4 linked regions of the Homo sapiens genome follow. The protein of the gene in region 2 interacts with the protein of the main gene of each other region in a biochemical or structural test. Each region holds a gene or a part of one and is shown on either strand. Other genes may lie near its edges.

Region 1 (7,044 bases), on a different chromosome or scaffold from region 2:
TCCTAACAGTAGAGTCTGATAGGAAAGAATAGAGAAGTCATTAAATAATTTTAAATTATTTATAAAAATTACTTTGCCCAAACTATAATTATTTTTTCCCCAAATGGTCTCAAATGTCTAACAGAACGAAAGAAAAAGCAGTTCAACATTGATTTTAATGAACATTTTAATGTTATGTATAACAGAACATTATGAATATAATGGAAATAAAGTTTTATCAATTTAATAAAAAAATTTTCAACATAACATGGGGAGGTAATAATTTGATATCTATATTATAGTATTTATTTTGAAAAATATTCCCAGCTTGAGGGTAAAACAATTAATTTTGCATTCCAAACTCTAGAATCATGATTTTCATGTGAGCTTAATGCAGAATTACAGCAGAAAAACAAAAACATTTTCATTAATTTCCTTTGTCATTAAATCAATAAAATCTTTGACTGCTACAGGTCTCCTTTAACAATATATATTTAACTCCTCTATTGGAACCATATTGCTAATGCTGCATTATATACACTCAAAACCAAAACAAAACAAATACTGTATAAAATCTAAAAGCAAACATTGAGTTGTAACATTTATATTTAACTTAAGGTTTTAATGGATTTTTACCTTTGCAGACACCCAAAAAAAAAATAAAATAAATATTTTTCTGACTGTTCCTGACTTAAATGATGGCTACAGGGATAAACACGGAAGGAAGCCTTGCCAAGTTAATCACTGCAAATTGTAAATAATGACTGCTAAAAACAAACAGAAGTTTTTTTCTTTTAAAGGAAACCATAGAGCAGTCCTGAAAAAAATTTCTTCCTAGTTCTGCACAGGATAATTACAGCAGAAGACATGGGAAAAGTCCCATGGCAATCACCAATTGCTTAAAGAGGTTTTGTTACAATAAAAATTTGGATAGTATAATAGCAGTGTTGCTGGAACATTAGCAAAAGTATATACATTCCAGTTACCTTTGATTTAGCCATAATCACATATGTATGCTTTTTTTTTTCTTGGACAAAAATATATATTTTTATAAAAAACTGATCATCCAACTTTAATGATTTCATATATGGACTCAAGAGTGGTAGTAAAAGGAACAGACCCAATTATGACAAGGCGATCCAGGGACAGAAAAATCAAGTTCCTCAGGAAAAGAAAGTATAAAATTAGAGATTCAAACACATTTATTCAGCCCTATTCCAGTCTTCCCACAAATTATGCTGTTAAATGGACTCTTCAGTTGATAAAGGCTTTCAATGGTCTCACCACCCACTTGTGGTCTATCCTCACTGGAAAAAAATGATTTTGACTGCCTCATCTGAAGTGCTCTTGCCTGGCCCTCTGAAATACTGGATATTTCACTTTTATAAAACAGCCTTTTTGGTTCTTTATGTAGATTTATTTTAATTACTTGATAAAAGAAAGGGTAGTTGATTAGCATTTTCCATCCCAACATCACCTATCTGCACAGCTAAAAATTCTTCATTCAATCTGCTTCTTTTACAATCTCTTATTTGCTAAAATTGGCGAAATTTGCAAAGGCATCTTGCTTGGGTTGCACAGTTCCAGAAGTCATGGCTATGTTGGGCATGCCCATTCCCATTGTGCCTGTCAAGCCCATCCCAGCAGCGGACATCCCTATGTTCATGTTCATGCCCATCATGCTCTGGTTCATCATCGGAGTATTTCCAAGAGGGGCCATTCCCATGGTGCCAGTCATCACATTGGGCATGCTCATAGGCATGGGTCCCCCTATCAAAGCATTAGTTTGGGGCCGGACAGGAAGCATGTTCGATGGAGAACTGAGGTTCACAGCTCCAAAACTTTGAGTCATCACATTCATAGGCTGCTGCATATCTACCAGACGAAAACAGACAGAAGAACTTTACCACAATAAATTTTTAGGTTCATAGAACAGAGAACTAATAACTTCTTGACCATCTATCTATACTTCTTTAGCCCCAATAAAATTCCTTTACAGTGATTTTATTAGAAATCAATTACTCTGCACTGGTTCCTCTTGAGACATATATTCAGTGACTATTGGCTCTGGTTCCCCAGAGATGTAGAAACAGTAAGAGTAGACTGGGGAAAAACAGCCAACTTAAAAACATTCCTACAAAACCTATTGTTAAATCCTACTTAACAAGTTGTCAAGAGCTAGTGTGTATAAAAAATCTTTCAAAGGTTTACATCCTTTGACTTATTCTATTTTTAGAACATTCTATTAAAAAAATCAGAAGTATGAAGATTTATACAAAAATCTTTAAAAAGTTTATATCCTTTGACTTATTTTTAGAACATTCTATTAAGAAAAAAACAGAAGTATGAAGATTTATACAAAATCTTGATTTATAATAACAAATAGCTGGAAACAATTGAAATAATTAGCAAGGGAAATCATACACTAATATAACTATCAAGAGCTAACAATCATTTTCCTAAGAATATTATTCAACACAGGGAAAATGATAACTTAATGTTGAATAAGAAACAGTATAGAGAGAATGATCCCAAGTATTAAAAATATGCTTAGAAAAGATGGAAAGTGGCCAGGCGCGGTGCCCCACGCCTGTAATCCCAGCACTTTGGGAGGCCAAGGCGAGTGGATCACTTGAGGTCAGGAGTTCAAGACCAGACTGGACAACAGGGTGAAACCCTGTCTCTACTAAAAATATAAAAATTAGCCAGGTGTGGCGGTGCACGCCTGTAGTCCCAGCTACTCGGAAGGCTGAGGCAAGGAATTGCTTAAAACTGGGAGGTGGAGGCTGCAGTGAGCTGAGATTGCACCACTGCACTCTAGCCTGGGCGACAGAGCAAGACTCCATCTCAGAAAAAAAAAAAAAAAAAAAAAGAAAACATAGAAAGAAATATGTATTAATGGCAATTACCCCTCAACGGCAGAATCAGATGATTTTTGTTTGTCCATCGTATTTGCCTATATTTAAAAAAAAATCTGTATAGCAAATTTTTATTTTAGTGATCAGGTCCTTAAAACTCTCCACAATACAATAAATGTTATCAGGACAAGAATAGAATATAAAGTAATTCAATGTGCCAGGAGGAATACCCAGTAAATATTATGTGAAAATATCTTAAGTGAACAGGCATTTGGTTAACTGTTACAATTTATGTGATATATTTTTATTTATAGTTTGAAGTAGTCCTGGCATTAAGGCAAAAGACTGCAAGTACACAAAGAAGTGGGACGTCTTAAGGTAACTTACTCTGTTGCTGAATCATTGTATTCAGTGATGGCTGCTGGGGTTTGGAAGGCTGCATACCAGGTAGTAAGTTGTCTAGGCTGATGTTTACACTGGGGTCAGACCAAGTAGAGGGCAAGGTTTTGCTGACTGATTTCTGGACCATATCTGTATTCTGATTATAGAGAGGATTAGGCTTCTGCAGCACTGTGCTAACATTTTGCAAAGGCTGGAAAATAGAAAAATGCTCTAAAAATTAAGCATCTGTTCTATAAAAATTATCAGATGGCAATTTAATCACAACAATGAACTTCTGAAACAAAAAGAACCACTAATGTTCTATGCTAATGTCTTCAATACCCTGAATCATTAGCTTCCCAAAGAGGTTCCTCTGAAGTCCCAATCAGGTTTGAGGTGGATAAAACCAACAACTTACCTACACTAACAATTATTCTCCCATCACTCAAAGTCTAGAAGCCACCATCCCTGGCAAATGCCCAGGGGAACTACCGATTTTAGGTTAGTACAGCTTTAAGGAGATACACAAGTGGACATTTATTCTTTCAAAACAGAATTCAGAGGCCAGGCGCAGTGACTTATGCCTGTAATCCCAGCACTTTGGGAGGCTGAGGTGGGCAGATCACCTGAGGTCAGAAGTTCAAGACCAGACTGGCCAACAGGATGAAACCCCATCTCTACTAAAAATACAAAATCAGCCAGGCATGGTGGCACATGCCTGTAGTCCCAGCTACTTGGGAGGCTAAGGCAGGAGAATCACTTTGAACCAAGGAGGTGGAGGCTGCAGTGAGCAGAGATCGTGCCACTGCACTCCAGCCTGGGCGACAGAGCGAGACTCTGTTTCAAAACAACAAAACAAAACAGAGAATTCAGGATATGATGTCTCACATTATACAAGGATATAAGGCAAAACTGTCAAAAAGCAATTTATATTTCACATATCCTGACATTTTGCTGTTCTGTGTATACTTTTACTATCTAAAGTGAGCAACACTAACTGAACTGATTAATATATGGAACAATGTAGGAGAAAGAAGAAATTCAGGAGAAAGAAGCAGAGGTTCCTAGTGGTTATTGAGGATAACTGAAAAGGACAGAAAAAAGGAACAGGAAGAGGAAGAATAATTAAAAATGTACCAATGCAAAGAATTATGACAGTTACAATTAAGACTGCAAATAAAGTAGACTGACTTTATGCTTAACTCATACATTAGGTCTTATTTCTGTTACATAGAGCAGTCACCTTTCTGCTTCTTTCTTCTTTTCCTTCATCCTAATACCCCAAAGACGAGAATCTACACATTAAAATGAGTAATTAGCATCATAAACACATATTCTCAATAGTTTGAGTCAAAAATAGCAAGTTCCTGGTACCATTCAGACACATATTTTCCAAGCCTGCACTTGTCTGAATTCTAAGCTAGTACTAGGTAATTCGGATTTAACTATAAAATAGTGAATTAAGAAGCTCCCATTTTGGTTGTTTTTCTTTATGAAAATGAAAGTTGAAAGATGAGCCTATAAAACATTTATATAATGTAGAGCAGGTCCAGAATTGGGAAGAACATTCACCATTCGAGAGAATGATTTTCCATATTAGCAATAATTATTTACAACCAATGAGTGATATTTCTTTAGGGACATGACCAGAAATTTTACTAAGTGGATACTTGCCGTAAGTGAAACAATATCTCTATTTCTTTTTCTTTTCCTTTTTTTTGAGACGGAGTATCACTCTGTCGCCCAGGCTGGAGTGCAGTGGCGCGATCTCAGCTCACTGCAAGCTCCACCTCCTGGGTTCACGCCATTCTCCTGACTCAGCCTCCCAAGTAGCAGGGACTACAGGTGCCTGCCACCATGCCTGGCTAATTTTTTGTATTTTTAGTAGAGACTGGGTTTCACCGTGTTAGCCAGGATGGTCTTGATCTCCTGACCAAGTGATCCACCCACCTCAGCCTCCGAAAGTGCTGGGATTACAGGGGTGAGCCACTGCGCCTGGCCTATTTCTTTTTCTTAAAGACAATTTAAAAAAACTATCAAGTACCAATTTGTTGTAACAATAAATTTTTGCCATGTTCCTCCTCTGTGCAAAGGCACCATGCTTGGCTTTACAGTGACTACAAGATGGGGGAGAAGGTCTTGCCTTCCAGAATGCAAATGACTATGCTAGGGGAGAGTATGAGGTAAATGAAATGTGCAAATGCGTATATATACACACACAGACACATATTCATACACATAAAAAGGACTTGCTTATTTTTCTGTTTTATACTAATCTATCATTCAATGAGTTAGAGCATCTCAAAGATTATAAATAACAAATTCCAAGGGAACCAGACAACTTACCTGTGATCTTGACATAGGCAAACCAAGTCCCACAGTGTTAGTGCTCATCATAGAGAAATTCATACTCTGGGAAGATGTCATGGTTGCCTGGGACGAGCCCATAAGATCAAACAGGTCTGAAGAATTTGAGGCAGCAGGAGGTGGGCCTAGAGCTGATTGTGAGCCACTAACAAGTTCTACCGCTGGCTGTGAGGCACTGCCAAAGAACTCGCCACTGGAAGCAACAGGGCCTGATGGGGCTTGGTTGAAGGCACTCCAGTCACCAAAGTCTCCATTCCCACTTGTTGCTGTTACTAAGACAGAAATAACTCTAAGGGTAAGAAACTTCATGGAATGCACAGAACAAATGTAACAATCTATGAACTGAAACAAATTAGAGCTGATCTGAGTCCCCCAGATTAACATCTGCAGGTACCATCTCCATCTGGACAGTATTCTTTCTCATAAATATTACACGAGAGTTAACAAGGTGGCAAAGAAAAAACAAACCTCCCAAATATAACGTAAAATCCATCTCTTGGCAGCTCTGTAGGTGACACATTGAATTTACCATAAAAAAAAATGGCCAGGCATGGTGGCTCACGCCTGTAATCCCAGGACTTTGGGAGGCCGAGACAGGTGGATCACAAGGTCAGGAGATTGAGACCATCCTGTCTAGCACGGTGAAACCTCATCTCTACTAAAAATACAAAAAAATTAGCTGGGTGTTGTGACACACACCTGTAGTCCCAGCTACTTGGGAGGCTCAGGCACAAGAATCGCTTGAACCCGGGAGGCGGAGGTTGCAGTGAGCTGAGATTGTGCCACTGCACTCCAGCCTGGGTGACAGAGCGAGACTCCGTCTAAAAAAAAATGAAGAATTTCTCACTTATTTGGCCATACTTCCACTGACAATACAAGGGCTATAACCTTAGCACATTGCCTGCTTCAACTGGGACCATTTATTTACAATCAAAGAGAGGAGGAAAACTCATGTAATATTAAAAAACACAACCAAGCCAGAAACAAGCAAAACCCTATCATACTTTGCAAGTTTAAGGTTGAATGCATAAAATCCATACTCTTAATCACTACAGTCTTATCAATTAACCTCTGATCAATTTTTATATTGAAAGGAACAGATAAATACGCATAAATGGAAGTTGAAAAAGCAAAATGTGAAGAAAGAGCTACATAAAAACCGTCATCTGAAAGCAAATAGTAAGTATGTACCTTCCAAGTTAATTAACACCATCCCTTTGCATTCCATGTTCATTTACAACTTGGAAATACATTTTGTCTAGCCTAAAAAGTGACCAACCACTACAATACCATGTCTCATTATGCTAAATATCAAAAGAGAATAATAAGGTGAAGTCTTTAAAATTACATTCTTCTATTACCATATTAAAATGTAAGCACCCTTGAAAGAGAAAATAATTCACTTAGAAACTCCAAGTTCTACTAACAATTTAATATAAAAATTGGGCTAATTTCTTTA
Region 2 (7,000 bases):
AAAAAAAGGCCGGGCGCAGTGGCTCACGCCTGTAATCCCAGCACTTTGGGAGGCCGAGGCGGGCGGATCATGAGGTCAGGAAATCGAGACCATCCTGGCTAACACGGTGAAACCCCATCTCTACTAAAAATACAAAAAATTAGCTGGGCCTGGTGGCGGGTGCCTGTAGTCCCAGCTACTCGGGAGGCTGAGGCAGGAGAATGGTGTGAACTCAGGAGGCGGAGCTTGCAGTGAGCTGAGATCGTGTCACTGCACTCCAGCCTGGGCAACAGAGCAAGACTCCGTCCCACAAAAAAAAAAAAAAAAAAAAGTCAGTTTCCTGAGGCCCACTAGCAATTAAAGACTTCAGAATGAAAAGGAACTAAAGGCAGACAAATGTCACATGCAAACGTTCTTATATTGGCTTTGAGTCTCTAGAACTCCATTCTAGAATCAGGTACCAGTTCTGAACTGATCTATAAGCCGTAATGTGCGGAAAGATCTGCTGTGAAGAAAAAAAAGTGATGGGCGCAGTGGCTCATGCCTGTAATCCCAGCACTTTAGGAGACCGAGGTGGGCAGATCACTTGAGGTGAGGAGTTCGAGACCAGCTTGGCCAACATGGCGAAACCTATCTCTACTAAAAATACAAAAATTAGCTGGACATGGTGGCTCGCACCTATAGTCCCAACTACTCAGGAGTCTCAGGCAGGAGAATTGCTTGAACCTGAAATCGCACCACTGCACTCTGGCCTGGGTGACAGAGCAAGACTCCATCTCAAAAAAAGAAAAAGTTCCTCTGGACTTGAAAATAAAGTAAGTAAGGCTTCTTCTGAACAATACTTAAATTAATCGAGATGAGGAGAAAGAGGCCAGAGACTACAGAACAACGCTCTTTGTGATCTCGGTTTTCCCATCTATGTAATGGGAACACTTTCTGAAGATCTGTCAAATTAACAGTGTAGAGCACCATCCGCTCCATGCCTGGAACTGTGCCCCACACGGAAGCATGCACACAGTAAACAAAGGACAGTCTTTTCTCACTGAGCTCTTACAGATTTAGAGGCCAGGTAAAGGACTGCAGGGGAACGGCAGAGTGATCATGCCTCCAGAGGAGGAGGGTTCTGAGATAGGTGGAGCAGCAAGGGAAGTTCTCTTAGATGAAGAGGGGCTTGGCTGACGCAAAAAGACAGGTCAGATTTAGAGAGGCAAGAGTGGAGGTGGCAAAGAGATGCACCACGAAATTGCCAATGTGACAACGGAGGGAACTGACAACAATTAAATCAACACTAGCTGGGGAACGGCTTCTTGCTAAGTGATTTACAACCCTTCTCATTTAATTCTCAGGGTAATTCAGTTAAAAAACAAGGAATTAGAGACACTGAGAGATGAGTGATTTACCTAAGGCCAAAACAAGAAGTCTGTGAGCCCCGCTGCCTGGCTGAAGGAAAGGACCTGGAAGGGAAAGGAGCAGACGAGGCTAGGGAAGGAAGAATGAGATTCAGAAATGGTTCTGGATGCCAGGTGTGTTGGGTCCTGCCAGGAGAAGACACAATGGTCATGTCAAATGACAAGTCTCATGCTGATAAGCATTTGACACTACTGATCACTCCCTCCTTCCTGAAAACCTGTCTTCCCTCAAATGCTAGGATGCCATGCTCTCTGCCTGCCCTCCTACGCCACTGTCTGCGCCTTCTCAGTCTCCTTTGCTTGTTCCTCTCCTTCTCCTTCAACACTGTGTGCCCCAGGGCTCAGGCCTGGTACCTCTTCTCTTCCCCATCTATGCTATTTTGCCTCTTTGGTGGATCATCCGGTATCACAGCTTTACATACCATCCACATAGCCCAACCTCTCCCCAGAACCCCCGGGCACACATGTCCAAACTGTGTAACTGACATCTCCACATTACTGTGGAGATGACTAGCAGGCAGCTCAAACAATGGGATAAAAACTGACCTCCTGCTTCCTTCCTTTCCCCAACTGGCTCACCCTGCAGTCTACATCATCTAGTTCCTGCCAGCACCATCTTTAAGAGGGCCTCAGGCTAAAAACCTGAGTCACTCTTAACAACATACTCTCCTTTAAATCTATCGGCAAATCCTATTGGATTCCGACCTTCAAAATGAATCTAGAATCCATGAGCAGCTTCTCACTAGCTCCATCACTAACCCCAGCTCCAAGCCAGCATCACCTTCCATTTAGAGTGCTAACAAAGCTGCTCCCACACTGCTTTGCTGACACCCCATCTCAGCAACAGCCAGGATGATCCTCTTACAGTCCAAATCAGACAGTAGCACCCCTCTGCTCAACGTCTTCCAACGGTTCTCTGTCTTACTCATAGTAAAAGCCAAAGTCCCTACCATGGCCTCATAGCCCACAGGTCCTATAAGAGATGCATGCCCCTCCTCTCTCACGCATGCACCCTGCTGGCCATTACCCTTTGAACTCTTCTCCCCATCATTCCCTCAGCTCCAGCCGCACAGGCCTCTTTACTGATCCTCGAACACAACATGCATCCACCCCAGGGCCTTTGCCCGTGCTATTCACTTTGCTAGGAAGGCTCTTTCTCCAGACAGCCTCATGGCTCAGTCCCTCACCTCTTTAGGTCTTGGCTCAAATGTCATCTTCTCATTGAGGCCTTCTTTGACCATTTTATTTAAAATTGTATACCCCTCCCCCATAATCCCCACCACTTCCTAACCCTCTTTGCCCTTTTTCCCTTCAAAGTACTTATTACCTATTACCTACACACTATAAAATATACTTACGTTGTCTATTCTTTCTCCCCCTATAAATTCCCTAATGTAAATGGGGGTAAGGATTTTGTCCATTTTGTTCACTATCATATTCCTGACTCCTAGGCTGGTACCTGGCAAACAGGTGTTCAATAAGTAGCTGAATGACCAGTGCTCAACTCTCTTCTTGGGCAAATTTCATGTTTTGTAAACCAACCTCTGCTAGAGCAGCTTCTCCATGTTCCATTCACGGGGTTATCCAGGATCAGAGATACATCTGCTCTGATTGTCAAGCTATTCTAACTATACTGAAATTGAACATGCCAGACCCCTAGCACATTTACAGCCAATAAATGGAAGTTAAGTGAATAAATTATGAGAGAGAGAAGAAATGGCAAGGGTAGAAGATCAGGTGGCAACATCTCCAGTGGGAGAAACGTTCAGTGAGGCCAAGTCACTCTCACCTGCTCCCATAGGTATCAGCTCAGAGTGACAGAGCTGCAGAAGGTGGGGGGCTCTGGCACAGGATATAAGTACCAGGTCCTTGCCTCCAGGCCCACATGCCTTCTTTGTTCCTCTAACAGCCAACTCTTCACTATCTCTACCCTTGCTGATCCTTCTGCTTGGATTATCCTCTCCTAACTGCTCCAATTTATCCTTCAAATCTCAGCTTAGATGATCTCATTTCAAAGATAACTTCCCTTCAGCGTGATACCTCTGATGCTTAAAAAAAGAAACAAAAAAAAAATACCTTTCCTACATGTACTATCTTTTTTGTTGTTGTTGCTAGAGACAGATAGTCTTGCTCTGTCACCCAGGCTAGAGTGCAGGGGTGTGATCATAGCTCACTGCAGCATCAAACTACTGGGCTCAAGCAATTCTGCTTCAGCCTCCTGAGTAGCTGGGACTACAGGCGTGTGCCATGCCCAGCTAATCTTTTCAAGTTTTTTGTGGAGTCTCGCTAAATTATCCAGGCTGGTCTTGAACTCCTGGCCTCAAATGATCCTCCCACCTCAGCCTCCCAAGTAGCTGGGATTACAGGCATGAGCCACGGCACCTGGCCATGCATGTACAACCTTAAGAAGGTATTTCTCTGTCCACATCCTTCAGTGTTCTTATTCATACATTTCCTGAGCATCTTTCGTGTACCAGAAACACTTCTACATGTTGGGAATGCAGGAGTGAAAGAAACAGACAAAAATCCTTCCCTACATGGAGTTTATGTCCTAATGGGGGAAAGAGACCGTAAGCAAGATAAGTGAGTAAAATATATAACATCTTAGATAGTGATAAACACAATGGAGGCAAAAAAGAGGAGGGAAGGAGGATAGGGAGGGGAGAGGGGAGGAAGGGAAGTTAAAATTTAACTAGGGTGGCCATAGAAGGCCTCCTTGAGAAGGTGACAGGTGACACTGTCTGCGAAAGAGCCTGCCAAGCAAAAGAGATCGCCAGTGCAAAGGTGAGTATGTGCCTGGCATGTCTGAGGAACAGAAGGGAAGTGAATGTGGCTGAGTGAGCAATGAGGAAAACAGTGGGTCAGGAAGTCACAGGAGAATGCAGGGGGCCTTATGATCAAGCGTGAGGTCTCTGGCTTTTACTGAGTGAGCTGGAGCCACTGGAGGGTTTTGAGCAGAGGAGTCCTGACATCTGACCTATATTTTAATAAGTTCTGGCTGCTATGCCTTTTGTTTCCCTTGTGGCTTATTGGTTTTTCTAATCATTGCATTTTTTTCTCTACTTCTTTGTCTCTCTCTCCCATTAAAATGAAGTAAGCAACTAGAGGGCTTATCTGAAGCCTGAAGCCATATCTGGCCTGTTGACCTATCAGCATAGGCCAGCACCAGGCATTAGCAGGCCTCGATAAATACTGAATGAATACTGGACTTAGAAAGTCTCTGTCCTCAGTGTCCCAGCAGCCAGCCACCCAATACTCGGAGATCGGGCAATGAAGACCACCACAGCAGCAGACCCAAGGCTGGCTCTACTGAAATTGTGTTATTCTGCTCCCAATAGGCTTAAGATCCTAAATGTAAGGAGGGTGTGGTAAAAAGTATCTACCACCCAAGTCTATTCCTCTATGGAACTCAGCTACTGAAATGCCAAAAATGAACACTGAAGGTTCAGTTTTAAAGCTTTTGAGACCTGGGCCGGGTGCGGTGGCTCACGCCTGTAATCCCAGCACTTTGGGAGGCTGAGGTGGGCGGATCACAAGGTCAGGAGATCGAGACCATCCTGGCTAACACGGTGAAACCCCGTCTTTATTAAAAATAGAAAAATTAGCCGGGCGTGGTGGCGGGCGCCTGTAATCCCAGCTACTCAGGAGGCTGAAGCAGGAGAATGGCGTGAACCTGGGAGGCAGAGCTTGCAGTGAGCCGAGATCACGCCACTGCACTCCAGACTCCGTCTCAAAAAAAAAAAAAAAAAAAAGCTTTTGAGACCTGACTTTCAAACCTACCACCTTCCAGCTCCGAGTCCACAGGGTAGACTGTGGTAATTGGTGGTAACCTGGGGGATCAGTGACTAAGGCATCCCAGTAACTGATGAATTCTGGGCCTTGTGGGGTCAACCCAGAGTTAGGCCACACTCATACCACAACTAGGAGAGGCCTCCCTTCCTGACAGAGGTCAGAGGTCAAGTCCAAGGCTAAAGACCCAGACAGCATGAGGTGTAGGAGTGTAGAACCATAGCCAAGTCCTTCCTCAGCTCCACTATATAAGAGGGGACAATCTAAACACAAGGAGTGGGTAGGTGAAGGCAGCCATTGCAGGTAGGACAGGGGCTCTCCCAGGTTCTACAAAGCAAACAGGCACAACTGCAGCACAACTGTAAAATGGGAACTACAATGTTACATGCCTGAAGGGTTTGTGAGGCTAAAACAAGTCAATACATACCTAGCCCTTAGCAGTGCCCGGCCCACAAAATGCCTGATAAATGTTAGCCACTATTACTACTACCGAGAGAGAGAGAGTTTACCACTTCCCTGCTCCGTACCAGATTCCCAGGTCTCTGGAAGCCCTGAAACACCCTGATGGCTGTCTGGTGGTACCAACTGTAGTTTGAAAGTAGTCTCAGCACTGATCAGATTTCTCCCTGTCTCTATGAGGTGACATGAGGATGGACAGGAGATAATCTAGAAAGTGCTTTGAACCCCTTAGGAGTCAAGGAATCCTAACAATTCAATGCAATATTCATTCATTCACTCATTCAACACCTGCTGAGCACCAACTATGTACCAGACACCTCACTAGGTGCTGGAGACGTAGTTAAGGCAGGTCTTCGTCAAGGATTAAAAGCTATTTACTGGCCAGGCACGGTGGCTCAAACCTGTAATCCCAGCACTTTGGGAGGCCGAGGCAGGCGGGTCACTTGAGGTCAGGAGTTCGAGACCAGCCTGGCTAACATGGTGAAACCCCATCTCTACTAAAAATACAAAAATTAGCCAAACATGGTGGCAGGTGCCTGTAATCCCAGCTACTCTGGAGGCTAAGGCATGAGAATTGCTTGAACCCGGGAGGCGGAGGTTGCAGTGAGCCAAGATCGCGCCACTGCACTCCAGCATGGGCGAAAAAGCGAGACTCTGTCTGGAAAAAAAAAAAGAGCTATTTACTTAGAAGAGAGCCAAATAAACAATCACAACCCACTGTGACCCTTGCCAGAGGGCATCAAGGAGGGGCATCTAGCTCAGACCTAGGGGTGATGATCAGATGGGAAGAACCAAGTAGCACTCCAGCTAGGCAGGTAAGGTTGGGAGAGCAGGAAATGGTGTTCAGGCAGAGGGAAGAGTGCAAAGCAAAGACAGAGAGGTATAAAGAGTTGGGAGGCCAGGTGTGGTGGCTCACGCCTGTAATCCCAGCACTTTGGGAGGCCCAGACAGAAGGACTGCTTGAGGCCAGGGGTTTGAGACCAGCCTGAGCAATATAGCAAGACTCCATCTCTACAAAAAATAAAAACAATTTGCCAGGCACAGTGGCACCCATCTGTAGTACTAGCTACTTGGGAGGCTGAGGCAGGAGGATCGTTCAAGCCCAGGAGTTGGAGCCTGCAGTGAGCTATGACAGCTCCACTGTACTACAGTCTGGGTAACAAGCCAAGATCCTGTCTCGAAAAAAGAAAAAGAGTTGGTGCTTGCAGAAGTAGCAAGTAGCTGAGGTTGACTGGAGCTTGGGAAAAGGTGAGTGTGGAGCAGGAGAGATGACAAAAGAGAGCTAGGCAGGGGTCAGAGTCCAAAGGGCCTTGAATGCCATGCTAAGGAATGTGAGTTTTAGCCCGAGGGCAACTAGGAGCCAC
Region 3 (8,040 bases), on a different chromosome or scaffold from region 2:
TTTTTTTCCCTGGACGTCAATGCATTCTCACTTGTTTTTACTGGTAAGACTGAAAACTTTCACCCACTAACCTTCAATTTCTATCCATGGCTAATTCATTGGTAATTTCTTGCAACTTTCAGAAAAACAGTAATTCTCAATTTGACACAGGTTTGCCAATATGCATTTAAAGACCTCTTACACTTCAAACCTTGGACTTGCAGATATGAAAAATAATAACATTCTCAGTATTCTACTCTTCACCTTTGCCCTGCCCTGAGCACTATCTAAAAACCAATGACAGAAATGAATTGCAAACATAGCATGAAGCACTGCTGCAATTAATCAACCCAGAGCCCAAGGGAGGAATTGTTTCTATTTTTAAATGCACTGTTACTTTAAGGGAAAAGTCTGTGGAGAAATATGAAACCAAGCTGCATAATGAAAATAAAAATGCATTTGGTGTCTTCATCTGTGCAAAGACAGTAATCCTAATGTACAAGGAGCACTGTTTTGTTGACTACTCAGTTTGTCTGTAAATGAAATGACCGGTACTCAAGACAGAATCCCACAGAAAGCTCATCTGCTATTCAAAGAATTAGATCCGTCAGAAGGACAAAACACGAGAGTACCCATATTTCAATGCTATTTTTATAACTCCAGATAAGGGACTATCGTAAGTAAGCAGATGAATAGATCCCAAAATCACCCTTCAAATCTTTACCTAAAAGATCCTGATTAGTAACTAACGTGGTTCAGCCCGAAAAATGATCAACTGATTACTTAGCATTTGGAACCAACTGTCCACAGTTATAGATTGTACCAAATCCCACAAAATCAAATCTGTTTCTCTTCACAAATGACAACACTTCATGTCATTAAACAGTAGCTAACAGTCGCACTGCTTATGGTTAAGAGTGACAAGGAGCAGGTGCCAAGCCAGCAAGGAAAACAAGTAACGGCTACACAACAGGAGCTAAAAAGTATTCTACCTGTTCCCCCAGACTGCTTTCAAGAATCTGACCCAACAGAATTTTTTCCCGAAACAATATGCAGTTTGCGGGGGGGTGGGGGGAGGGGACATTCGTTGGTGATATGGGCATCTAATTTAATCTGTAAATATTTAATGTACTCAATGAGTTTACTTACTATCACCATGAAATATGCTATACTATCTACACTGCTATAAATGCATCTAAAAATACATCCATTACTAGACAACATTCAGTACAATGTACAATAAACACTACATTCAGTGTTAAACACAACATTTTACATATAGCTTAGCTATTTAATATCACCACCAGAATCTGCTAAAGGTAGCAGAATGTTTGCAAACTGGATAAAAACTGCTATGCTCAACACGAAAAGCAAAGAATCCCCAATCTTATCGCCTCATGATTTCTTTCCCCAAATTTGGCAAAACTGAGCTTGAACACCACACATTATAGAATGGAGGCATTGCTTCTCTAAGCAATAATGTCACAAACCCTGCTTCAGAGTCTCTCTTCAGTGAAAATCTCTGAAGAAGGAAATTCACTAAATTGTATTCCATCGATCAACAGGTGATTCGTGGAAACACAAACTCATATTCATTTCCAATGAAAATTAATATTGTAAACTCTCCCGTTTTTTCACATATATATATTTACAAGCTACTGCATTATTATATTGAATGAATTCCAACCGATTTCTTCTCAGAGGCTTACTAGAAAAATGCCAAATATTCAAATTATTTTGGGGCGTTAACCCATACTGTTGCATGGAACAGAACGGAATTAATAAGGATCCAACAGTTACCACTTTTCAAATGCAAATATGTTGCCATCTAGTAAATACAGCCCCTTTTTAAACATCCCTCAGTGTCTATACAGTTCAGGGCCCTACTTTTGTTTCTTTGAAAATCAAAATTCGCGCATTACATTGAGGCATTATCTCAACTCAGCAACAACAACTAAAATAGATACTAACTAGTCCAGCCTGAGTCTACATCGTACAAGACTTTTGCTTTATTTTTTCCTCCCATTTTAGACACACTGTCCCTAAACAATTCTGCCAAAGGAAACAAACCCTGCAGTGATGAAAAGAATCACGGACACTGGGTTCCACGAACAATAAGGTCGTGGGCTGGTCACCTGCCCGCCTCGGGCCTCAGTTTTCCTGTCTGTAAAATGTGGCCGCTGGACGAATCACCTATGGGGTCCCATCCGGCCCTCTCCCTCCCGGGTGCCTCGCAGCCCGCCCGGGCTCAGCTGACTGGTGCTGTGGCCAGGGTGCCCTGCCTGCCGCCGCTCTAGATGGAGGAGAAGGGGGGCGAGGGAGGAGAGGAACTTGGACTTGCAACAGCTTCAAACAGGAGCCGGCGACAAACTTGAAGCCGTCCTCCTAACAATAGGAAAGAGCACTCCCATTTTCCTGGCTCAAACTTGCGGGACCCCGCGAGGCTGGATCCTCCCAGCCGCCCTCTCGGAACCCGCTTTACCTTTCTCCCTGTTTGGTGTTAGAAGGAGGAGGGTGCAGGACCGTTTGATTCCCTTCCATCTCCACCACGCACTTGGTGTTCAGTTCCAGTTCTGAAAGCAGAGAGAAAGGGACGTTGCAAAGTCCAGCATCCGCGCCTCCAGCCCGCCCGCCCGCCAGCCGCGCCGAGCGGGGCTCCGTCCCTGGAGGCGGCCGAGCCTGGAGACGGCGCCCCGGGCACCACGGCCAGCGCGGACGCCGCCTCCGCCCCGGCCCCCCGGCCCCGGCCGCGCTCTCGCCGTCCCGGCCCCGCAGTTTCTAAAGTTGCCCCCGCCCTCAGCCCGAGCAGAAATAAAAAAGAGCGGAAAGCTCCTCACCTCGTCGGTTCATGGGCCGGACCCGGACGGCAACTTTTACCTTGGTATCCGACATGTTGGCTGCGCTCGCCCGGCCGCTCGCCGCGCCCGCTCGGCCTTAGGCGGCCCCTCACGCGCGGCGCCGCCGCCGCTGCAGCCGCGCGCCCCTCGAGCGCGGCCGCCGCCGCTCCGCCGTGAGCTCCGAGAGGCAGCGCCGAGGCGCGCGGGCCATCCCGGGGGAGCGCGACGCGGGGCACGGCCGCGGCCCGGGGAGGGGCGGGCGCGCGGGGCGGGGCGCGGCGGCGGCGGCGGCGGCGGCGGGCGGGGAGGAGGCCTCGCCGGCGGGCCCAGGCGCAGCTCTAGCCGCGCCGCCCCAGCCGAGACCGCAGCGCCGCGGCCCCTCGCGGCTGCCCGGGGCCCCGCGCCGCCATGTTCCGCGCCCGTCACCCGCCGGGGCTCGGGAGAGGCCGGACACGGCCACGCGCGGCGCCCCCTGGAGCGGCGGGACGGCAGTGAGAGGAGCGGCGAGCAGCGCGGCGCTTAGGGGAGGCTGGAGTCCGGGGCGGGACGCATTGTTTCCCCAGGGGACCTCCCAGGCCAAGCCTGCACCGGCGCCCGCGGGGCCCCCCCCCGGACACCGCCGTGAGCTCGAGCCGCCTTCTGGGGCCGCTGCCACCCGGAGCCCCGGGACGGCAGCAAGGACCACGGCTCGCCGCGCTGGGTGCGCAGGCCTTCCCCTCCGAGTCCCGGCACGCCGCCCCCTCTGTCCCACACGGAGCCTGCAGCGGTATTTTAAGATCTCTGTGGTGAACCGAGACTAGAAATGAATCTGTGAATCCACCACCGAAACAGTGTATGTTTGTAAATAGTGCTCTCCCTTCCTTTCCCGGCCTCTCTTGTCTCGGGAGGGATGTCAAGTGGGCTGGGAGGGCCATTAACTCTTACATAAGAATTTAATAGCAATGGATTCTGTCATCCTGCCAAATGCAGACCTCGCTGCCAGGGCGGAACTGGGCGAATCCGATTTATTCTGTTTGGTTCAACAAGTGCTTAAGGGGCGCTCACCGAGTGCCAGGCATTTTGAAGCGTACAGAAGTCAAAAATCCAGAGTTTAGATCCAGGAATCTTTCGATTTTGCTTAAATCTAGAAATCCACTTATTGGAAGATGCATTGAGGTTTTACTGTGTGCAGGGTGCTGTTGAGGACACACAGAAACATGAATAGCATGATGCAGAGGCACACGCTAAGGTGGAAGAGAGGGCGTGGAGACTTATTATGCTAGACAGTGTACGGCAGGTGCTAGGAGAGGGGTCCGTCCGCCTCCAACCGAGGTGATGCTACGCTTGACCCTCGAACAACACGGGTTTGAACTGCACGAGTCCACTTACACGTGGCTTTTTTTCAACCAAAATCTGATTGAAAATACAGTATTCGTGCTCTGGCACAGTGCCTTACGCCTGTAATCCCAACACTTTGGGAGGCCGAGGCGGGAGGATCACTTGAGGCCAGGAGTTCGAGACCAGCCTGGGCAATGTAAAGAAACCCCATCTTGCCAAACATAAAAATTTAAAAAATAGCCGGGCATGGTGGCAGGTGCCTGTAGTCTTAGTTACTGGAGAGGCTGAGGTGGGAGGATCACTTGAGCCTGGAAGGTTGAGGCTGCAGTGAGCCATGTTCGCACCACTGCACTCCAGCCTAGGCAACAAAGCAAGACCCTGTCTCAAAAAAAAAAAGGGAGAAAAAAGAAAAGACAGTATTTGGCAGGTTCAAAACTGAGAGATCCAACTTTTCCTATTTGTGGGTTCTGCAGAGCTGACTGTGGGACTTGAGTATGCATGGTTTTGGATGTTCCTGGAACCAGTCCCCTGTGTACACTGAAGGACAAATACTTCAGCCCCACCTTATTGTAGAGCCAGCTATCTCAGTCTACCTCTGAAGGGCCTGTTGCATCTTTCCTCCTCTCCATTCCTGCTGCTGCAATCTCACTTTACCTGTCCATTCACTTGTTCAACAAATGTGTTCTGAGCGCCCTACTATGTTACAAACACTGTTGTAGGCTTTAGGCTACAGGCTCTCAGCTGCTGCTCAGAAAGAGGTGAAATTTCCAGCCCTCTGAGGCTAAGAATCTAGGTCTGTGCTTACCTCTTCACTTTTGGGCTGCTGAGACATCCTGTTAACCCTCCTAGCTTTGCCTCCTCTAATCACTCCTAAATCCAGCTTCCAGACTGATTTTTCACAAAATTAAAATTTTATCCTTTAATCGTGCATGGTATTCTATTGTTCAAAAAACTCTCAGGCTGGGCACGGTGGCTCACGCCTGTAATCCCAGCACTTTGGGAGGCCGAGGCTGGCAGATCACCTGAGGTCGGGAGTCCGAGACCAGCCTGACCAACATGGAGAAACCCCGTCTCCACTAAAAATACAAAATTAGCCAGGCGTGATGGCACATGCCTGTAATCCCAGCTACTTGGGAGGCTGAGGCAGGAGAATCGCTTGAACCTGGGAGGCGGAGGTTGCGGTGAGCCAAGATCGCACCGTTGCACTACAGCCTGGGCAACAAGAGCCAAACTCCACCTCAAAAACAAGCAAACAAACAAAAAACCTCTCTGTTTAATATTACCTCCCACCATTCCTGAAATTCTTTATCCAGGACCTTTTCACAAGCAAGATACCATCCCTATGCTAAGCCATTGCTCTGGTAGTTTCTATCAGTGGGAATTGTAGAGGGTTGAATTTGTAACTCCCAAAAAGGTATGTACAAGCCATAACCTCCAGTACCTGTGAATGTGACCTTATTTGGAAACAGGGTCTTGGCAGAAATAAAATTAGGATGAGGCCATACTGGGTTAGGATGGTCCCTAAATCTAATGACTAGTGTCTTTTTTTTTTTTTTTTTTTTTGAGACAGAGTCTCGCTCTGTTGCCCAGGCTGGAGTGCAGTGGCACGATCTCAACTTACTGCAACCTCCACTTCCAGGTTCAAGCGATTCTCCTGCCTCAGCCTCCCAAGTAGCTGGGACTACAGGCATGTGCCGTCATGCCCAGCTAATGTTTGTATTTTTAGTAGAGATGGGGTTTTGCTGTGTTGCCCAGGCTGCTCTCGAACTTCTGACCTCAGGTGATCTGCCCACCTCGGCCTCCCAAAGTGTTGGGATTACAGGTGTGAGCCACCGCACCTGGCCTGACTAGTGTCTTTATTAGAGAAAGGAGAGGGGGATTTGGATACACAGGGAGGAAGACCATGTGAAGACAGAGGCAGAGATTGGAGTGATGCAGCCACAAGCCAAGGAACACCGAGGTTTGCCAGGAGCCACCAGAAGCTAGGAGGAGGAAAGGAAGCCTCCGGAGGAAACACGGCTCTGCTGACACCTTGATTTGGGACTTCTAGCCACCAGAACTCTGAGACACTAAATTTCTGTTGTCTTATGCCACCCATTTCATGGTCATTTGTTACAGTAGTCTTAAGAAACTAATACAGAGGCCAGGCGCAGTGGCTTATGCCTGAAATCTCAGCACTTTGGGAGGCAAAGGTGGGAGGATCACTTGAGCCCAGGAGTTTGAGACCAGCCTGGGCAACATAGGGAGACTCTGTCTCTACAAAAAATAAAAAATTAGCCAGGCGTGATGGCGTGTGCCTGTGATCCCAGCTACTTGGGAGGCTGAAGCAGGGGGGATTGCTAGAAAGCCTAGGTCAAGGCTGCAGTGAGCCATGATTGTACCACTGCACTCCAGCCTGGGCAACAGGGTGAGACTCAGTCTCAAAAAAATAAAGAAAGAGAGGAAGGATGAAAGAAAAGGAAGGAAGGAAGAAAGGAAGGGAGGATATACAAAATTTAATCAATCCCTTCTCTGTCTCATTTTCTCCTTCTCCCTCATTCTCTGCCAGATCATGAAAGCCTTGAGTGCCTAAGAAATTTCATGTTTATTGTAAAGGCAATAGGAACTGAATGAAGCATTTGGATTTGGAGCCAGGGATTGACATATTCAGAGCATTGATTCAGGGTAATTAATTTGGCAACACTGTATCCATCCAGAGGACTATTGTAGTCATCCAGATGAGGTGATGATATCATCATCCAGAGGTGATGATAGCATGAACAAAGCCAATGATAGCACAAATGGAGCAGAAGGAACAGACGCAGAACTTACTGCGAGAAAAGTGGAACAATTTAGCAACCAATGGGATGTGAAGATTGAGGGAGGCAAAGGATTGCAAGTGACTGAGAAAGGGATTGGGAGGATGATGGCCCATAACACCACGAATAGTTGAGAAGAAGAATAGGTCTTAAGGTGAGAGGGGCATGATTCATTTGGTGTTACAGGTTAGAAAAACAGTTCCCATTGGTTCTTTGCAGAGTGACTCTTCTTTCTGCTTTCCTGACCCTTTCCAACTTTAAAGACCAGATTAGTCCTCACCTCTTCTATGAAGAGTTTACTAGTCTGGGCATGGTGGCTCATACCTATAATCCCAGCATTTTGGGAGACTGAGGTGGGCGGATCACTTGAGTCCAGGAGTTCAAGACCAGCCTGGCCAACCCAGTGAATCTCTGTCTCTACTAAAAATACAAAAAAATTATCTGGGCATGGTGGCACATGCCTGTAATCCCAGCTACTTGGGAAGCTGAGGCATAAGAATTGTTTGAACCGGGGAGAAAAGAGGTTGCAGTGAGTCAAGATCATGCCACTGTACTCCAGCCTGGGTGACAGAGTAAGACTCTGTCTCAAAAATAAATAAATAAATAAATAAATAAAAGTTTACTAAACATTTCTTTTTCAAAACAGTTTAGCCTTACATCATTAGGAATTATGTCTTTTTAGCGTTTGAAGGGCCTTTGGGAGTCCTGTGGACCTTTTTACAACAGCCCCCAAAACGGCCACCCATTCCGTGCTTGGATTCCGCTGACAGAGTTCTCAAATTGGAAGAGAAGCTGAACTCAGTCAGGGGACTCCTCAAGTTCTTCGCCTAGGAAAGGCCTCCATGAAGAATCAGATTTGCATCCCTGGGCATTCCACCTAGTGACAGAAGTGCTGCCTTCTCCTGCTTCCCATGCCAAATCTAACTCCCTTTTTTTTTTTTTTTTTTTTTTTTTTTGAGATGGGGTCTTGGCTGTATCACCCAGGCTGGAGTGCAGTGGCGCAACCTCGGCTCACTGCAACCTCCGCCTCCCAGGTTCAAGTGATTCTCCTGCCTCAGCCTCCCGAGTAGCTGGGATTACAGGCACACACCACCACACATGGTTAATTT
Region 4 (7,000 bases), on a different chromosome or scaffold from region 2:
ACTGAAGATGCAGAAAGCGGAGGCAAGCCAGAAGGCTCCATAGGGCCTGAGGACCTCCTGCAGAGAGAGGAAAGGCCATGGGTGGACGCGGGGAGAGATCAGGAAGCCCCACGCGATCACTGAGACAGCTCTGCCACCAGGGGGTCCAGTCCCCTGACCCCAGCCTGCCCTGCCCAAGGCCACACCCATTTTATCTCCACCCAGCTCTGGGACATGGAGGATAGTCTGGCATCCAGTCTGGTGGCTTGGGCCGAGCACTGTCCAAGATACCGAGGTCGTATGGCTGGGGAAACTGAGGCTCACAGCAATGAAGTGACTGCCTCAAGGCCAGAGACCCGCTATCCAGTGACAGCTGGGCTCCTGTTCCAGGTCTGACTCCAGGGCCCACAGACCAACCCTCCACCCTCAGCTTTGGCCCCACCCTGAGGCCCCCGGTGGGTTCTTTCATAGTGTGGTGGAAATGGGTGAGACAGGGCAAAGCGAGCATGGCCCCAGGAGCACATGGGGCCTTCAGTCAGAACCTGTCCCTGCCATCCACCACCACTGTGACCTCCCACGTGCCAGAACTAAAAAGGTGCTTCTCAGCTCCTGGTCCTCTGGGACCTGGCGATCTCTCCCTCCTCGAAGGCCTTCTCTTGGCCTCTTGGACATTTTCTCTCCTAAAAAAGGACTGTTAGGTCCTTTGTCACCTCCTTCTTGGCTTCTTTTCCTCCTTCCTTTGCTGCGCATCCCCTCCCAGCTGCAGCAAGTAATCTCCACCCCCAGGCATCGGCCTGGCCCCCTCGATGTGCTCCCCGGGCAGTCCTGCCTAAGCGGGTCCCAAGCTCTGCACAGACTCCAGGCTGGCCCCTCATGACCCGCCCCACCACATCCTAACCCAGCCCCACTGGGGTTCATTCTCCCACCACTGCCATGGCCTTTCCCGTCCTTGTCATAAAGGGGACCCTGTCCATCTTGTTCATTGCTCTCCCTGGCGCCTTGAATGGGCCTGGACATGGCACATGCCAGGAGACCTGGAGGGCACAAATGACTGAACAAACAACCAGATCATCTACCCCAGAACTGTCTCTCTGTTGGCTGGGAAGCCCCGGGACAGGGGCCACACCTGTGCCAGTCCATCCGTGAGAAGGCAGCAACAGGATGAACTGAATTAATGCTCCCATCCGTCTTAAGAGCAAGCTGCTGTTACTCTCCTCCAGTTTCAGCCAAAGAAGCGGGCTCAGAGAAGGTAAGCATCATACCCAAGGTCACACAGCAAGGAAGTAGCCAGGGTGGGGCTGCAGCCCAGCCCTGTCAACTCTTCCCATGTAAGACCTTAGGCTCAAGGCCCGCTTTCCTGACGTTCACTAAGGGGAGAGGCCAGCTGTGCTGTCTGACTGCCAAGACAGGCAGAGGACTCCCAAGGGGTCACAGCCTGGGTTCCCCATCTGGCCTAGCCCATCTGCCTCCACGTCGCCTTGCCCAAGATGGCCAGTGGCCCAGGCATGGTGGGGCTCAGGCTGCATGTAAGGCCACGACCCTGGGTCTTCTGCAATACAAGTGGTTTTAGAAAGTGCTTCTCGGCTGACTGCACGAACGCGGTGCTGGTGGAGCCTGCCCTCACCATGAGGCTGCTGAACTCCTTGGTCACGAGAAAGGCCATGAGCCAGTTGGTGAGGACGCAGATGCCTGTCGCCACGCCCTTGACATGCAGAGGGAAGATCTCTGACATGAGGAGCCAGGGGATGGGCCCCCAGCCCACCGCAAAGCCTGTGGGAGCGAGACAGGCAAGACAGGCATCAGGGTCCGCAGGGCTGGGCTCCTCAGCTTGCTGCAGAGCCAAGAGACCCAGCTTCCCAGCCTGTGGGGCTGTGGGGTCCCGGATCCCAGTGTGGTCCCACCAGCTCCATGCTTTCCTGCCAAGGCCTCGGCCAGCCTCTTCCCTCCTCAGGCACAGGCTCTGTCTCTGAGATGGGGTCACAACGGGGCCTGCTCGAGGGCTGCTCAGGGGATTAAGTGAAAGGAACGCAGAGGGGCCTAGTTCCACAGCTGCATGTGGTCAGAGCTAGAAATGCAGAGCTTGGAACTTACGAGAGGAGAGGTGAGGCTGGGGAAGACCCCACCTGCCGGGAGCCGCCACAGCAGGGCCGGGGGGATCACCTCCCACTCCTCGCCCAGCCTCCCACAGGCCCCCTTACCGGCGATGAAGAGGCACATGCTGCCCACGGCCAGCCAGGCCAGCCCCACGCTGGCATCAACAGGCTGTGCAGAGACAGGCGCCGAGATGGCCACGTGCGAGGAGTTGCCAGGGCCACCCTGGGTCAGCTTGAAGTAGGCGCCGAAGGCACTCGTGCTGAACACCATGACCACACCTGCAGGCGGGAGGGCGGCAGTGGGCGGGGCACCCGGGGAACGGCCCAGGGCGCAGCAGCATGGCCTGGATGCCTCTGAGAGGGGCAGGCCCGGCTCCCAGAGAACGGCCAGCTTGGTGTTCTGGCACCTTGGCCGCAGAAGCCCTGACTGGGTGGCAGCCACCCCGCCTTGGACCTCAGCGAACTGCAAAAAGTTCCCGGAGCAGACCCTCTGGGCCGAGGAAATGGGAGGTACCGGCACAGAAGCAGCAGCGAGTAACCCTCAGCCCCGACGGTCGTCTTCGCAGCAGCTGCTGGGTACCAAATGTCCGTGGGCCGCAGCTCTTGCTGAAGGCCTCACGTGGATCACCTCCCACTCCTCAAAATGGTGCTGAGGGAGGCACTGCCATTACCCCCACTTCCCAGAGGGGGAGACTGAGGCTCAGAGAGGTAAAGTCACTTGTCCAAAAGGACCCACAAACTCTTGAGTCACTTCACCTTCCTGGCCCTCAGTTTTCCCGTCATAAGCTGGGGCTGTGAGAGTGCCTTCTGGTGGGTTCACCACAGAGGTTAAAGGCGTGGTGTGGGAGTGCCACTGGCATGGACAGGCCTGCAGTGAGTGCTTGGTGACAAGCTGCTGTCAAATCATGGCCGCATTAGTCCATGATGTTTGTCATCACAAATGCTCCCTGTCCTCCTCCTGCAGTGTGGTGGCCTTGGCGAAGGCCCTCCCCCGCATGGCGGGGAGGCTGCACAGGGGTGAACCCTCACCTGACAAGACCAGGAGCAGCCTCCGCCCTGCTCTGTCCATGATGAGAGCCGCCACAGCTGTGAACAGCACCTGGATGACACCCACGACGACCGAGGCCAGGCTGCTGTCCTGGGGGAGACAGAGCCCAGGCAGGTCAGGTGGGCCAGCTGAGAGCTGGGTCCCTCCCTCTCCAGGCCTGTGCTGGATGGCTGGGCCCTGGGCTTGGGGAGGAAGCTCCATCTATGTGGGGGCTGGACGAGGCAGGCCAGGCAGGGCCCTTTTACCTTGAACTTGGCCTCTTCAAAGATGGTCTCTGCATAGAACATGACGGCGTTGACCCCCGACAGCTGCTGGAAGGCCATCAGGGAGACGCCGATGATGAAGGGCTTGTAGATGCCGGGCTGCCGCAGCAGGGCCAGGTGAAAGCTCTGCTCTGACGGATACTGGCCATCAGGATTTCTCTCTCCCCTCCCGCAAGCGGCCCCCCTCTGGGGGTCTACTGTCCTAAGGCTTGGGGAGCGCTGACTCCCACGTCTTGGCTCCTCATCCCAGCACCCCCTGTGTCCTCAGGTGTGCAGACAAGTCCCAGCCTCCCCATGTGTCAGGTGAGATGACCCTCACCTGCCCAGGGCACTTCCTGATAGGTGGGGGGGAGCCACAAAGAGGTAATCTGGGCAAAGAGCAAGCTGCTGCCCTCATCCCTGCCACCACCAACACATCCAGCACCTGCCTCAGGTCTGGGCCTGGCCCTAGCTAAGCACCTCCTACAGCCCTGACCCTCCCCTCCCCACTGAACCCATCCTCCTCGCTGACCCCACCCTCCCCACTGAGCCCCCCTCCTCCCTAAGCCCCGCCTTCCTTTCCCCCACTGAGTCCCACCCAGCACTGTGAAGCAGGTGCTGACTCCCACATCACAGGTGAAGAGCTAAAGCTTAGGTGAGGGGCAGCGTGGGGGCTTCAAACCCATGCCTGGGTGACTCTAAAACCCAGACTTTTAGCCCTCTACCCTGCCTTGCAACTCCTTTGTTAAATCCAAGTCCTCAGCTCTGCCTCTGTATCCCCCACCAGGCCTGGCCATTCTCTTCCTGGGACAGTAAGGGTCAAAGCTCGGGCTTTGCTGGTGACTTTGGAGGCCAGGGCCCAGCTCCGTGGGGCTCCAGCTGTCTTGGCCTGCTCAAAGACAGGACACACTGGGCCTGTCCTCGCTGAGGGTGGAGGGTGGATAGGCACCTCCCTGTCCCCCACCCCCCAAGTGTGTGGCCTTGGGAACAGGCTGTGCTACCCTCCCGTGACTGCTGTCCCACTCCTGTCAGCTCTGCCTTCCAGCCTCTCACCTGCTCAGCCCCGATGGGGGGGTCTTCCCAGCCCTGCTCGGAGCCCCACAGGAACCGCAGGGCGGCCATGGCCTCCTGGCGCCTGTGCTGAGTCAGCAGGAAGCGCGGGGTCTCGGGCATGAAGCACATGAGAAGCAGCATGAGGGAGGGGGGCACGCAGCCCAGCACAGCCAGCCAGCGCCACTCCAGCACCCAGCCTGCGGGGGGTGGGTGGAGGAGGCTGGCGTCAGAGCCAGGGTGAGCCAGCCTGGGCCTTGCCAGCCTCAAAGACTCAGCTTCAGAGATGGGGCCTCGCTGCCTCTGCACATCTGCCCTCATGTTCGCTACTGACATTGCCATTATCACAACTGTTCATGAAGGCACATGGCACGGGCCAATCACACCAGCTGCGGAAGCGACAGTGGGTATGACAACGCGGACATTACTAGGCTGCATCCGTTCAACGAAACATTTATGTAGCCACAAAAATGAAGGATGAGGTGCTTGCTGCGTGTCCGCATGGTATGATGTGGCACCATTTGTAGAAGAGGTGGGGGAGGGAGGATAAATATGCATGTCCCTCATATGAACAGACTCTCTGAAGGCTACCAAGAAACAGGCAATGGGGACTCCCCCAGACAAGAAAGGGACAGAGGCGGAGGAAGCTTTTCACTGGACATCTCTCCACTCTGGCACTTGAGTGTTGAGTCATTTGAATGCATTATCTATTCAAAGTATACATGAAAGTAGAGAGGTGAGAGGATTTTGCTGTCTTGACGTATGAAGAACAGCATAAGTGCAGAATTACCTAGTTTTATATAAAGTTAAAAGGTTCTCTTACAAAGGGGCCCTGGAATAAATGAGTCTAGGGCATTGCTGCTCTAATTACTAATTTTTCCTAAGCCCAAGGCTTACCCATCCCTGGTTCCCAGTGGAAAAATACCTCTAAGGTAGCCATGATGTCCCTATTTTTCTTCTGTGCTGGGGGTGCAGACAATTGTTCTATGAAGTCTAGTCGTTGGAACATGATTGCCCCAATGTGAAGCAAACGTGCCACCACCATGTCACTTTGTGGAGTTATCAGAGTTCACCCACCCCAGTGGATCGAAACTCACAGAAATTGATCAGGAAAGGCAGGAGAAGCAACAAGCACATATTAAGATGAGCTGAAGATAGTGCCACGGGTGGGTGGACACCCAGTACCTGTCCCCGAAATGATGAATGTCAACACCTGCACACAGTGGGGGCTTTGGTTTACTCAGGTCTCCCAAGGTAGCCAGATCGCTGGCAGGATTCTGAATTTGTTAGGGTGGTTAAGTGGGTAAAAATGAAACACCAAAGACCTGTGTATCATCCGCCCTGACGATGCAGAGGGCTTGTGCCCTGGGCCAGGCCATAGCCCGTCAGGCCCCCGAGGCCTCCTACCCCGATGATCCCCATGGTTCTCAAGTCATCCCTTGACAATTCTCATTTGGAACCCACTGTTAGGCACTTTTCATGTGTCAATTAATTTAATGGACAGGTACTGGACTAGATGAGGTTATGCCCATTTCAAGACAGAGAAACTGAGGCTTTCAGAGGTGGTATGACTTGGCCAAGGTCACACAGCACGTAGGAGAGGCTATCCCCAAACTCAGGATGGTCAGATTTGAAGCCTGCCCTTGTTTTTTCTTTCTTTTTGAGACAGAGTCTCACTGTGTCGCCCACACTGGAGTGCAGTGGCGCGATCTCAGCTCACTGAAACCTCAGCCTTCTGGGTTCAAGCAATTCTTGTGCCTCAGCCCCCCAGGTAGCTGGGATTACAGGTGCCCACCACCACGCCTGGCTAATTTTTGTATTTTAAATAGAAATGGGTTTTCACCATGTTGGCCAGGCTGATCTCGAACTCCTGACCTCAAGTGATCCGCCCACCTCTGCCTCCCAAAGTGCTGGGATTACAGGTGTGAGCCACTGGGTCTGGCCTCTAAAGCCTGGCCTCTTTCTAATGAGAACACACCTGTCTCCTGAAGTTTCTTCATGCTGGCCCAGCTTTGCCCCTCGGGGTCCCCAGGACCCCGGCCTCCTTCACGTTGCAACTCGCCGACATGGTGAATCTGGCACTGACATTCTCAGGGGACTTGCTCAGCCCTTTACTCGCCCGGGCTGAAGATTTTTACAGGGACCCACCCACCTCTGGAGCCCTCTGGTTTGTCACTGCACAGTAAGGTACTGACCTAAGCAGTCAGCCCTTCCCACACCCCTAGAGGGGGCTTCAGGAAAGCTGAGGGTATCACCTTCTCCAGCTGTCCCTGGAACTCAGTCATAAGACACACCTATCGGCCGGGCGCGGTGGCTCACACCTGTAATCCCAGCACTTTGGGAAGCTGAGGTTTGGCGGTTCATGAGGTCAGGAGATCAAGACCATCCTGGCTAACACGGTGAAACCCCCTTTCTACCAAAAATACAAACAATTAGCCAGGTGTGGTGGCACATGCCTGTAGTCCCAGCTACTTGGGAAGCTGAGACAGGAGAATCGCTTGAACCCAGGAGGCAGAGGTTGCAGAGAGCCACCACTGCACTCCAGCCTGGGCGACAGAGCGGGACTCTGTCTCAAAAAAAAAAAAAAA

The links.
Region 1: the proteins of AP1B1 (region 2) and CLINT1 form a complex in vitro, tested with the Homo sapiens proteins (one study listed by BioGRID).
Region 3: the proteins of AP1B1 (region 2) and KIF13A form a complex in vitro, tested with the Homo sapiens proteins (one study listed by BioGRID).
Region 4: the proteins of AP1B1 (region 2) and SLC2A8 form a complex in vitro, tested with the Homo sapiens proteins (one study listed by BioGRID).

Annotation. Positions count from the first base shown.
Region 1 is NC_000005.10:157,786,139-157,793,182, forward strand, and holds part of CLINT1 (clathrin interactor 1), read right to left. Parts: intron 5,858-7,044; coding exon 5,565-5,857; intron 4,514-5,564; coding exon of another isoform or gene 4,487-4,513; exon of another isoform or gene 4,462-4,486; intron 4,303-4,461; exon of another isoform or gene 3,430-4,302; coding exon of another isoform or gene 3,376-3,429; coding exon 3,225-3,375; intron 1,881-3,224; coding exon of another isoform or gene 1,855-1,880; coding exon 1,508-1,854; 3' UTR 1-1,507. UniProt on the Homo sapiens protein: Binds to membranes enriched in phosphatidylinositol 4,5-bisphosphate (PtdIns(4,5)P2). May have a role in transport via clathrin-coated vesicles from the trans-Golgi network to endosomes. Stimulates clathrin assembly.
Region 2 is NC_000022.11:29,378,571-29,385,570, forward strand, and holds part of AP1B1 (AP-1 complex subunit beta-1), read right to left. Parts: intron 1-7,000. UniProt on the Homo sapiens protein: Subunit of clathrin-associated adaptor protein complex 1 that plays a role in protein sorting in the late-Golgi/trans-Golgi network (TGN) and/or endosomes.
Region 3 is NC_000006.12:17,984,593-17,992,632, forward strand, and holds the start of KIF13A (kinesin-like protein KIF13A), read right to left. Parts: upstream 3,044-8,040; 5' UTR 2,872-3,043; coding exon 2,817-2,871; intron 2,553-2,816; coding exon 2,462-2,552; intron 1-2,461. UniProt on the Homo sapiens protein: Plus end-directed microtubule-dependent motor protein involved in intracellular transport and regulating various processes such as mannose-6-phosphate receptor (M6PR) transport to the plasma membrane, endosomal sorting during melanosome biogenesis and cytokinesis.
Region 4 is NC_000009.12:127,400,169-127,407,168, reverse strand, and holds part of SLC2A8 (solute carrier family 2, facilitated glucose transporter member 8), read right to left. Parts: intron 4,613-7,000; coding exon 4,416-4,612; intron 3,510-4,415; coding exon 3,366-3,509; intron 3,211-3,365; coding exon 3,102-3,210; intron 2,352-3,101; coding exon 2,178-2,351; intron 1,750-2,177; coding exon 1,604-1,749; intron 58-1,603; coding exon 1-57.